2 separate regions of the Homo sapiens genome follow, and region 2 is reported to be linked to region 1. Evidence: microRNA targets listed by miRTarBase, many of them from high-throughput screens and not tested one by one. Region 1 holds a microRNA gene; the other region holds the end of a gene's coding sequence.

Region 1 (4,392 bases):
AGTGGTGCAAATGTGAGGTTCTTGGGGAACCCCCATCTATATAAACAAAGCTTATATCCATGGATTGAGATGGCCACTGTCTCAAAGGCAGGTCTATGTTTTGAACCGATACCCAATTCAGAGCCATGAGAGAGACCACAGGATGAATGTGAGGCAAGCCTTATTCTGCTAGGCTTCAGGGAAAACGGAATCCAGGAACTCTCTCGCCCCTGGTTGCTCTCATTCTCCATCATTTATTCTCGCTGCAGTCTGATTTTCTCTAGGTGGTGTGAAGCAGTGTCCTGGCGACTGCTGGGGCCCTCTTTTTAATTTCATCTTTCGATCTCCATTCTTCCATTCTATGAGCACAGAACCTCTGATTTTAGTTGGGTGTGTGTACACCCAGAATGAAGACTTTATTCCCTAGCCTCCCATGCAGCTAAATTTGACCATATAACTAAGTTATAGTCAATGTGAAGTATAACGGGAAGAGATGTGTGCAATTCTAAGTCGTACCCTTAAAGGAAAAGGGAATGTACCCCCCATTCCTCCTTTCCCCCTTCCCACTAGCTGAGATGAAAATATGTTGGAGAGCCAACTTGGACCATGCATATGAGGGTAGGATTCTAAGGATGGGGAGCCACAAGTAGAAGAAGGATGAGTCCCTGGGCAGCCTGTGAAGTCCTACCTGCACTGAACCACCTGCCTCTGAACTGTTACATGAGAGAGACAGCAACTTCAGCCTCTTTTCAGCCACAGTTAATTTGGTTCTGTTACAGCCTGTATTCTTACTACATTAAAATTTCCAAAGCAGTCACGAGCTCACTGAGATTTTAGGAAAGGGGACATAGATGAGGGTTGGGGTGTCAAAAAACTGTGAGGTCATGTTTAAAACACTACAGGAGCTGGTATGGTTTAGTTCTGTGTCCCCACCCAAATCTTATCTTGAATTGTAATCCCTATAATCCTGAGGTCAAGGGAGGGACCCGGTGGGAGGTGATTGGATGGTGGGGGTGGTTTCCCCCATGCTGTTCTCATGGTAGTGAGTGCATTCTCATGAGAAATGATGGTTTTATAGGTGTTTGACAGTTCCTCTTCACATACTCTCTCTCATGCCTGCTGCTGTGTAAGATATGCCTGCTTCCCCTTCTGCCATGATTGTAAGTTTCCTGAGGATTCCCAGCCATGCAGAACTGTGAGTCAATTAAACCTCTTTCCTCCATAAATTACCCAGTCTCAGGAATTTTTTTTTTTTTTTTTTTTTTTTGAGACTGGTTCTCACTCTGTCACCCAGGCTGGAATGCAGAGGTGCAATCTTGGCTCACTACAACCTCCGCCTCCTGGTTTAAGCAATTCTTATGCCTCAGCCTCTCAAGTGGCTGGGATTACAAGCCTGTGCCACCATGCCTGGCTAATTTTTTTGTATTTTTAGTAGAAACTGGGTTTCACCATGTTGGCCAGGCTGGTCTTGAACGCCTGGCCTCAAGTGATCTGCCCGCCTCAGCTTCCCAAAGTGCTGGGATTACAGGCATGAGCCACCGTGCCCAGCCTCAGGTATTCTTTATAGCAGTGTGAGAATCGACTAATGCAGAAGCACACACACACACAGATCAGAGAAAGATTAGTCACATGTGCCTCCTTATGTCCTAGACCATGTCACAGTGTTCTCTTGCGTTACAGTGCCTCTGCAGGTACTGCTCCTTCTGCCTCCCCTTACCCCAACACATACACACAATTGGCCTTCTAACCTTGGCTAAACCTGGCTAAACCTGGCTAACTCAGGGAAATATCTGACCACATTCCAGACTAAGTGAGGCATCTCTGTTATATTAACACGCCCCTCACAGCATGTATTACTGTCTCATAATATTACAGATTTGAAACTTTACATTTATTCCGTATCTTTTTTTACTTAAACAGGTTATTTGATTATCTCTCCCACATCATACGTAGATTCTGTGAGGTCAGGGACTAAGTCTGACTCCTTCACCGCTGTATCCTCAGCACCTAGCACAGTACATGACATACAGAAGGTGCTTGTCAAAGTCAAAATAAAATATGGAGATGAATCTCTAAATGTAATGTTTTATTTGGGGAAGCGAGAATCGCAACTCGGAGCATACACACAGATCTGGTGGTCTTTGGTATGTCCGAAAAACAAAGAGAAGGCTGGGCGTTTTATTAGAAAGGGAAATGCATTGGCACTAGTAAAGTTTCAGGGAGCTGGCAAGCTCTGATTGGTGACTGACAGTGGTAAGTAAAACTAGTATTAGGTTATGGCGGGTTGTTTCAGCAGTTACTAGCTGAATCTGGTCTCAGGGGGACAGCAGGCCATTTCCGCAGCAGTTAGTGGAAATATTGGTTCTTGGAGCAGGCGCTGCGTGCCTCCAGTGCTTTTCCCCTGGCCCCTGGATTCTGATTCCGTTGGGCATAAGAAGAGTGACCCAATTCGTATTATCAACTTTCACATGCTCAATAAGAATGTATGCATGTAAGCTATGGGTGAGTGAATGAATTTGGACAACTCCTCCTCCAGTGAAGAAAAGCAGAACTTACAACCTTGAGCCACTTATAAAATACTAACATACTACCACCACCTGTGCGCTGTCTTCTCAGAACCATGCTCTTCCCAGGATGAGTAACTGTGTGCTTCTAAGTGGAAACCTGATGACAGTCACCCAGTCAGTGACTGGCGGACCCCCTATTATTACTCCCATTCTTTGGGCAGGGAGATGCTTAACCGGCTGGAAGCACAGAGGAAGGGCAGGAGAACGAAGCAAGTCACCCGGCAAACACAGCTGTATCCGGAGGCCTCCGGGCTTCCGGAGGTCTCGGGGCTTCTGGGCTTCCGGTCCCTCTTCCGGAGGCCTGGGTTTCCGGGACGTCGCGCGCCGTGTGGGGCGCGCACGCAGGGCTGGGCGTGAGGGGGCGTGCGCGTGCGCAGGCGACGCGCCGAGGTACTAGGCAGAGCCGTGGAACCGCCGCCAGGTCGCTGTTGGTCCACGCCGCCCGTCGCGCCGCCCGCCCGCTCAGCGTCCGCCGCCGCCATGGGAGTGCAGGTGGAAACCATCTCCCCAGGAGACGGTGAGTAGTGGCGCGCGGCGGCTCGGAGTACCTCTGCCGCCGCGCGCATCGGCTCAGCATGCCCGTCTCTGTCTCCTCAGGGCGCACCTTCCCCAAGCGCGGCCAGACCTGCGTGGTGCACTACACCGGTGAGTCGGGGGCCCAGCGGGGAGGGGGCCCGGGCCGCAGTCCGCAGCCCGGGTGCGGCTGGCCGTCGAGGCCTGGGGGCCCGGGGCCTGGGGTCCGGGGCGTGGCGGCGGCGAGGTCCGCATGGCCCGAGGCTGAGGCCTGGGCGGTGGCTCAGGGGCAGCCTGGGGCTTGCGGAACCCGGGCGGGTCTGAATCGGCGGCTGTGAGCGTCGGCTGCGGGCTAGGTGTTATCTGACCCGTCAGAAGCATTTCTGCACCTTAGATGCTGCCCTTATGCCCGCTGCACAGATGAGGAAACTGAGGCTTGGCGAGGCGAAGTCACTTTCCCAAGGTCTCACTTTCCCAAGGTCACACTTTCAGGAATGGGCAGAGCTCTGGCCAGGGACCATTAGGAAGGATTTGTACCATTTCTGTGCCCCTGCCCCCACTTCCATCCCTCCCTTCACTGGAGATGAGGACGAGGTAATTCCGAGTCTGCAGAGCTGCTGCTTCCTCCGGGGAACTCGGAATTCGCCCCTTTGCCTAGGGTGGGGAAACATCCCACTTCCTAAGTCATTGCTTTGGCCCTTCCTGGCCTTGGGGGAAGTAGAGCTGCACGGCCTTCTTCCGTCTTTTTACTTTTGAGCCACTTACAAATCCAAGGCTCAGTGACAGCGCTGGCTCAGGCTGACCGAAAGCTGCACGTGTAATTTAGTCCCCCAGCTCTTCTAGAAGTAGAGACTTTTCTCGTCCTCATTTTAAAGATAAGCATCTGGAGGCTAATACATAGTGATAATACAAGCCAAAGGAAATTTTAGACACCTCCCCCTCCCCAGCCAGAATTCAGACATCAGAGTCGTGTGCCTTGGGGCTGTCTTACTCCTTCTCCTTACAAGCTTGTCCTGGTTTGTATGGGGGCGGGGGAGGGGGAGAGCTGAGTTGGCGGAGACTCAGTGGCTGTGGGTCCCACAAGGGTGGCAGTGATTGGTGTAGCCACAGTTGTTGATACGAATAACCTTCCCTCCCCCTCCTCCTTCCCCTTTCTCAACCTTCCCACCCTTTCCTCTGTTCCCCCTCCTCCTCCCTCTTTTTTTCCCACTCCCTCTCCTCCTCTTCCTCCTCCTGGGTAGTAGGCTGTGGGCAGTTCTGGCCAAGTTGCTCACGAATAAGCTCCACCTTTCTCTTCCAAATCATGGAAACATGGAGGGATCCCTCTATTGAG
Region 2 (4,392 bases), not on the chromosome of region 1:
CAGAGGTGGAGGTTGCAGTGAGCTGAGATCACACCACTGTACTCCAGCCTGGGCAACAGAGTGAGACTCTGTCTCAAAAAAGATTAGAACAATACATTTGACTAAAGCTTTATCATTATTTTAGGAGGTTTGATATGGAAAAAAAAGTTTGAATCAAAAATCCATTTGCTTTATCACAAAAATTGTCAACTTTACATTTGTTAATGAAAGAAAAGGAGCTGTCACTAGATTTAAAAAATGATCACATCATTAATTACGTGTAAAGAGATCAGATTACCAAAATGTAGGTGAATGATGAGAAAAGTCAGTAGGAGCAAAAGCAATAAATACTCTTCTCCCATTTGCTACCACTTACTTTTGAAGTTGCTTCTTGTTGGTAGGTACCAAGAAAATAAAGAGGTCATATTAAAGAGACATCACCAGGAATTATGAGTAGCAATTTCAAACATAAAATCTGACTTAAAAAAAAGTGTATTCATGAAAACACACCAAGTTCCTCATTAAAACATGTTAAAACATTTTATTTTGGAAGTTTTATAGAAATTTAACATTTACTGTCTTTCTCTTGGTAGTTTTATAGTAATTATATAATATAAAGAAAACACAATGACTATTTTAGCCTAGGCCCATGGAAGATGTCCCTAAAATCCCTCAAATTTACCCCACTGTGCCATATAGATATGTTTACTTACTTTCATTTTTTTTTTTTTTTTTTTGAGACAGGGTCTCACTCTGTCACCCGGGCTGGAGTACAGTGGCGTGATCTCAGCTCACTGCAACCTCTGCCTCCCGGGTTCAAGCGATTCTCCTGCCTCAGCCTCCTGAGTAGCTGGCACTACAAGCATGTGCCACCACACTTGGCTAATTTTTGAATTTTTAGTAGAGACAGGGTTTCACCATGTTGGCCAGGCTGGTCTCGAACTCCTGACCTCAGGTGATCTGCCGCCTTGACCTCCCAAAGTGCTGGGATTACAGGCGTGAGCCACCTTGCCCAGAAGAGATATATTTACTTTCTATGTGTGACACTGATTGAAGTCTGAGAAGCCCTGTCCATAACTAAAGTGTCTAATATGGAATTATCCAGAACATGTGTAGTATATTTGAATGAGGTTCAAGAGATACCTTTATCCAAATATGGTGACAAATTTCAAAAGAACCGGAAAAACTATGATGGATTTACATGAGGTCCATCTTTACAAAATTGTATTGAAAAATAAAGAATTTGGCCGGGTGCAGCGGCTCATGCCTGTAATTCCAGCACTTTGGAAGGCCAAGGCGGGCGGATCACCTGAGGTCGGCGTTCAAGACCAGCCTGACCAACATGGAGAAATCCCAACTCTACCAAAAATACAAAATTAGCCAGGCGTGGTGGCGCATGCCTATAATCCCAGCTACTCGGGAGGCTGAGGCAGGAGAATCGTTTGAACCCAGGAGACGGAGGCTGCAGTGACCTGAGATCACACCATTGCACTCTGGCCTGGGTGACAAGAAGCGAGGAAAGAAAAGAAAGAAAAGAAAAGAAAAGAGAAAAAGAAAGAAAGAAAGGAGGGAGGGAGGAAGGGAAGGAAGGAAGGGAGGGAAGGAGAGAGAGAGAAGAAGGAAGGAAGAAAGGAAGGAAAAGAAAGAAAGAAAGAAAAGAAAGAAAGAAAGAAAAAAAGAAAGAAAAAATTCTAACACATTAAAAAGTTAAACCACAAAACTGAAGGTTAGCTAAAGTAAACACAGTGGTCAATCATACATGATAAACTTCAAGCTGATGCCATAATTGTAATTACATGGTAACCTGAAGAAATATTGGATAGTAAAAGCCTAATGATTATTTTATATGCTAATCTGAGTTATTTCCTTTGAACAATGGTTATATTGAGGAATTGGTGAATTTTTCCCTTTGTTCTCCTGCTTGCTTTGCTGTTTTCCCTAAATATGTCTGCTGAGATGAACTAAAGAGAACATTTTTCCATCGAGTTCTCTAAAAATCTACCAGATGGGATCTCCTAAAGAATCCAACAGGAAACACACTCTTCTAGGAAATCACTGGAGGTCCCAAACCACTCTAATATGAATGATACCAGACCTCAAAGCTAACATTGAAAATGCACAGGTAAAACATCAAATAGCAGGCAGCAAGACAGAATACTACAAGCTTTTACTTTTTCTTTTTTTTTTTTTTTTTCTTGAGACGCAGTCTTGCTCTGTCACCCGCCTGGAGTGCACTGGTATGACCTTGGCTCACTGCAACCTCTGCCTCCTGGGTTCAAGCCATTCCCCTGCCTCAGCCCCCTGAGTAGCTGGGATTACAGGCACCTGCCACCATGCCCGGCTAATTTTTTTGTTTGTTTGAGACGAAGTCTCGCTCTGTCGCCCAGGCTGGAGTGCAGTGGCACAATCTCAGCTCACTGCAACTTCTGCCTCCCAGGTTCAAGCGATTCTCCTGCCTCAGCCTCCCAAGTAGCTGGGACTACAGGCACGCACCACCACTCCCGGCTAATTTTTGTATTTTTAATAGAGGTGGGGTTTCACCTTGTTGGCGAGGATGGTCTTGATCTCTTGACCTTGTGATCCGCCCACCTCTGCCTCCCAAAGTGCTGGAATTATAGGCATGAGCCACTGTACCCGGCCTAATTTTTGTATTTTTAGTAGAGATGGGGTTTCATCATATTGGCCAGGCTGCTCTCGAACTCCTGACCTCAAGTGATCCACCTGCCTCGGCCTCCCAAAGTGCTGGGATTACAGGTGTAAGCCACCACTCCCGGCCTACAAGCTATTTCCCTGTAATATGTCTGATCACTGTTAGGACCTGGTTATACAGAATTTTCATTCCAGGAAGCACAAATGTGATATACTTACAGTAATAATGGTCAGCAGCAAATCTTTTCTTTGGGGAGGAAAGGGTAAGAAAAGAAAAAAGAAGGAAAGGAATCTACCATATAGGCTGTGATAATCTTAAATGCTCTAAGTAAGCCATGTAATAAGTCTTCAAATGCATTAGAGATACATTAAAACATATTTGAAATGAAATTTCCAGCATCTAAGAGTGCTTGGAACGTGAATTTTAAAAAATAGTAGCAATAATTATTATTGCTATTAATTCTTATCATACTATTTTAGAATAATAAAGGAAGTCATAGATGCTGTATCTCTAGGTCTCTATAAACCTTAATAAATATATAGTTCATAGAAAACCTTATTGGAATGTCCCTTATATTCAATTAAAAGATAAATTAAAACCTCAGTCAAGATAGCAGCTTCTAAGGCATCAAAAACACTTATTAAGTTCTATACTCTTTGGTTATTTTCATAATCCCAATTCTAAAAAAAATAAATGAATTCAGCACATTAAAATCAGACATTTTGTATGTGAATTGCAGTTACAGTACTATTAAGTGTATGAAAAATGTCTAGCATTACATATAAACTCTGCACTATTAACATAATTTTGAATTATTATACAATTTAGAAAACTAAACATTTAGAAAAAGTATTAATGACATCATATATACTTTACATTCAAAATCATGGATTATTACAATATTGTGTCAAATGCAAAAAAAATTGCAGCTAATGTATCTAAACCAGCTTAAAAACATAACATGGAGTTAATACATTACAAATATTGTCTGTTGGGTTAGGTGGTAGTTACTTTAAACATTTAGAGCTACAAGTACCTATACAGTATAACACAGACACATAATTTTTTTTAATAATACAGACACATAGTAATTATAAATATGTTAAACAACTTTAACTTTGTTAGTTAACAAAGAATCCCTTTAAATTATTTTTGGCATGGTGCCTGAGGCTCCATCAAAAAACCGGATGGGAGGCGTTGCTTATTTACAGCTTCATAACATGTAGTGCTGGAGTCTTCAAGTAGATTTCCAGTTAAAATGTAGGCTTGTTCATGTATTCTTCCATTGTCTGAAAGCGAACAATAAATTAGAACAATTTTCCCTTTAAGTCACAGCCTTCCGCAGACTGTGAAATCTTCTGCATTCTTTTATTTATTTGCCATTGTTGAAAACAAGTTGTCAAAAGGATACATGGATATAAAATCTTTGCATTCTAATCAAAGTTTGAGTATAATTTGTATACACATCCATATGGGGCTGGAATTAAGTAACTTTCAACTGAGAAAAAGTTAAGCTTGATCATAAAGTGAATGTCTGATAAGAGAAATGCTTGGCCAGTGTGGTGCTCACGCCTGTAATACCAGCACTTTGGGAGGCTGAGGTGGGCAGATCACCTGAGGCCAGCCTGGCCAACATGACAAAACCCCATCTCGATGAAAAATACAAAAATTACCCGAGTGTGGTGGCATGCACCTGTATTCCCAGCTACTCGGGAAGCTGAGGCAGGAGAATTGCTTGAACCGGGAGGCGGAGGTTGAAGTGA

Evidence for each region. Region 1 holds the annotated microRNA hsa-miR-6869-5p (GUGAGUAGUGGCGCGCGGCGGC, at 3,064-3,085, shown strand). A microRNA usually pairs through its seed, bases 2 to 8, with sites in the 3' UTR of a target mRNA and lowers its output. Matches are read on the target gene's strand: a 7mer-m8 pairs with bases 2 to 8, a 7mer-A1 pairs with bases 2 to 7 and ends in A, and an 8mer does both.
Region 2: the mRNA of AP1S3 is a reported target of hsa-miR-6869-5p. Seed matches in the 3' UTR shown: 7mer-m8 at 2,282-2,288 and 7mer-m8 at 823-829.

What each region holds. Positions count from the first base shown.
Region 1 is chr20:1,391,633-1,396,024 of GRCh38, reverse strand. It overlaps MIR6869 (microRNA 6869), which reads left to right and starts at 3,064; the gene lies at 3,064-3,125. FKBP1A (FKBP prolyl isomerase 1A) reads left to right here and starts at 2,971. Exons shown (of 5, transcript NM_000801.5): 1 at 2,971-3,063; 2 at 3,144-3,191. The coding sequence starts at 3,027. FKBP1A-SDCBP2 (FKBP1A-SDCBP2 readthrough (NMD candidate)) reads left to right here and starts at 2,853. Exons shown (of 10, transcript NR_037661.1): 1 at 2,853-3,063; 2 at 3,144-3,191. RefSeq lists silencers at 2,915-2,964, 3,165-3,264, 3,275-3,344 and enhancers at 3,079-3,579, 4,371-4,392.
Region 2 is chr2:223,754,833-223,759,224 of GRCh38, forward strand. AP1S3 (adaptor related protein complex 1 subunit sigma 3) reads right to left here. Exons shown (of 5, transcript NM_001039569.2): 5 at 494-3,918. The coding sequence ends at 3,883. Among named protein-coding and RNA genes, the nearest start is that of AP1S3, 81 kb to the right of the region's middle.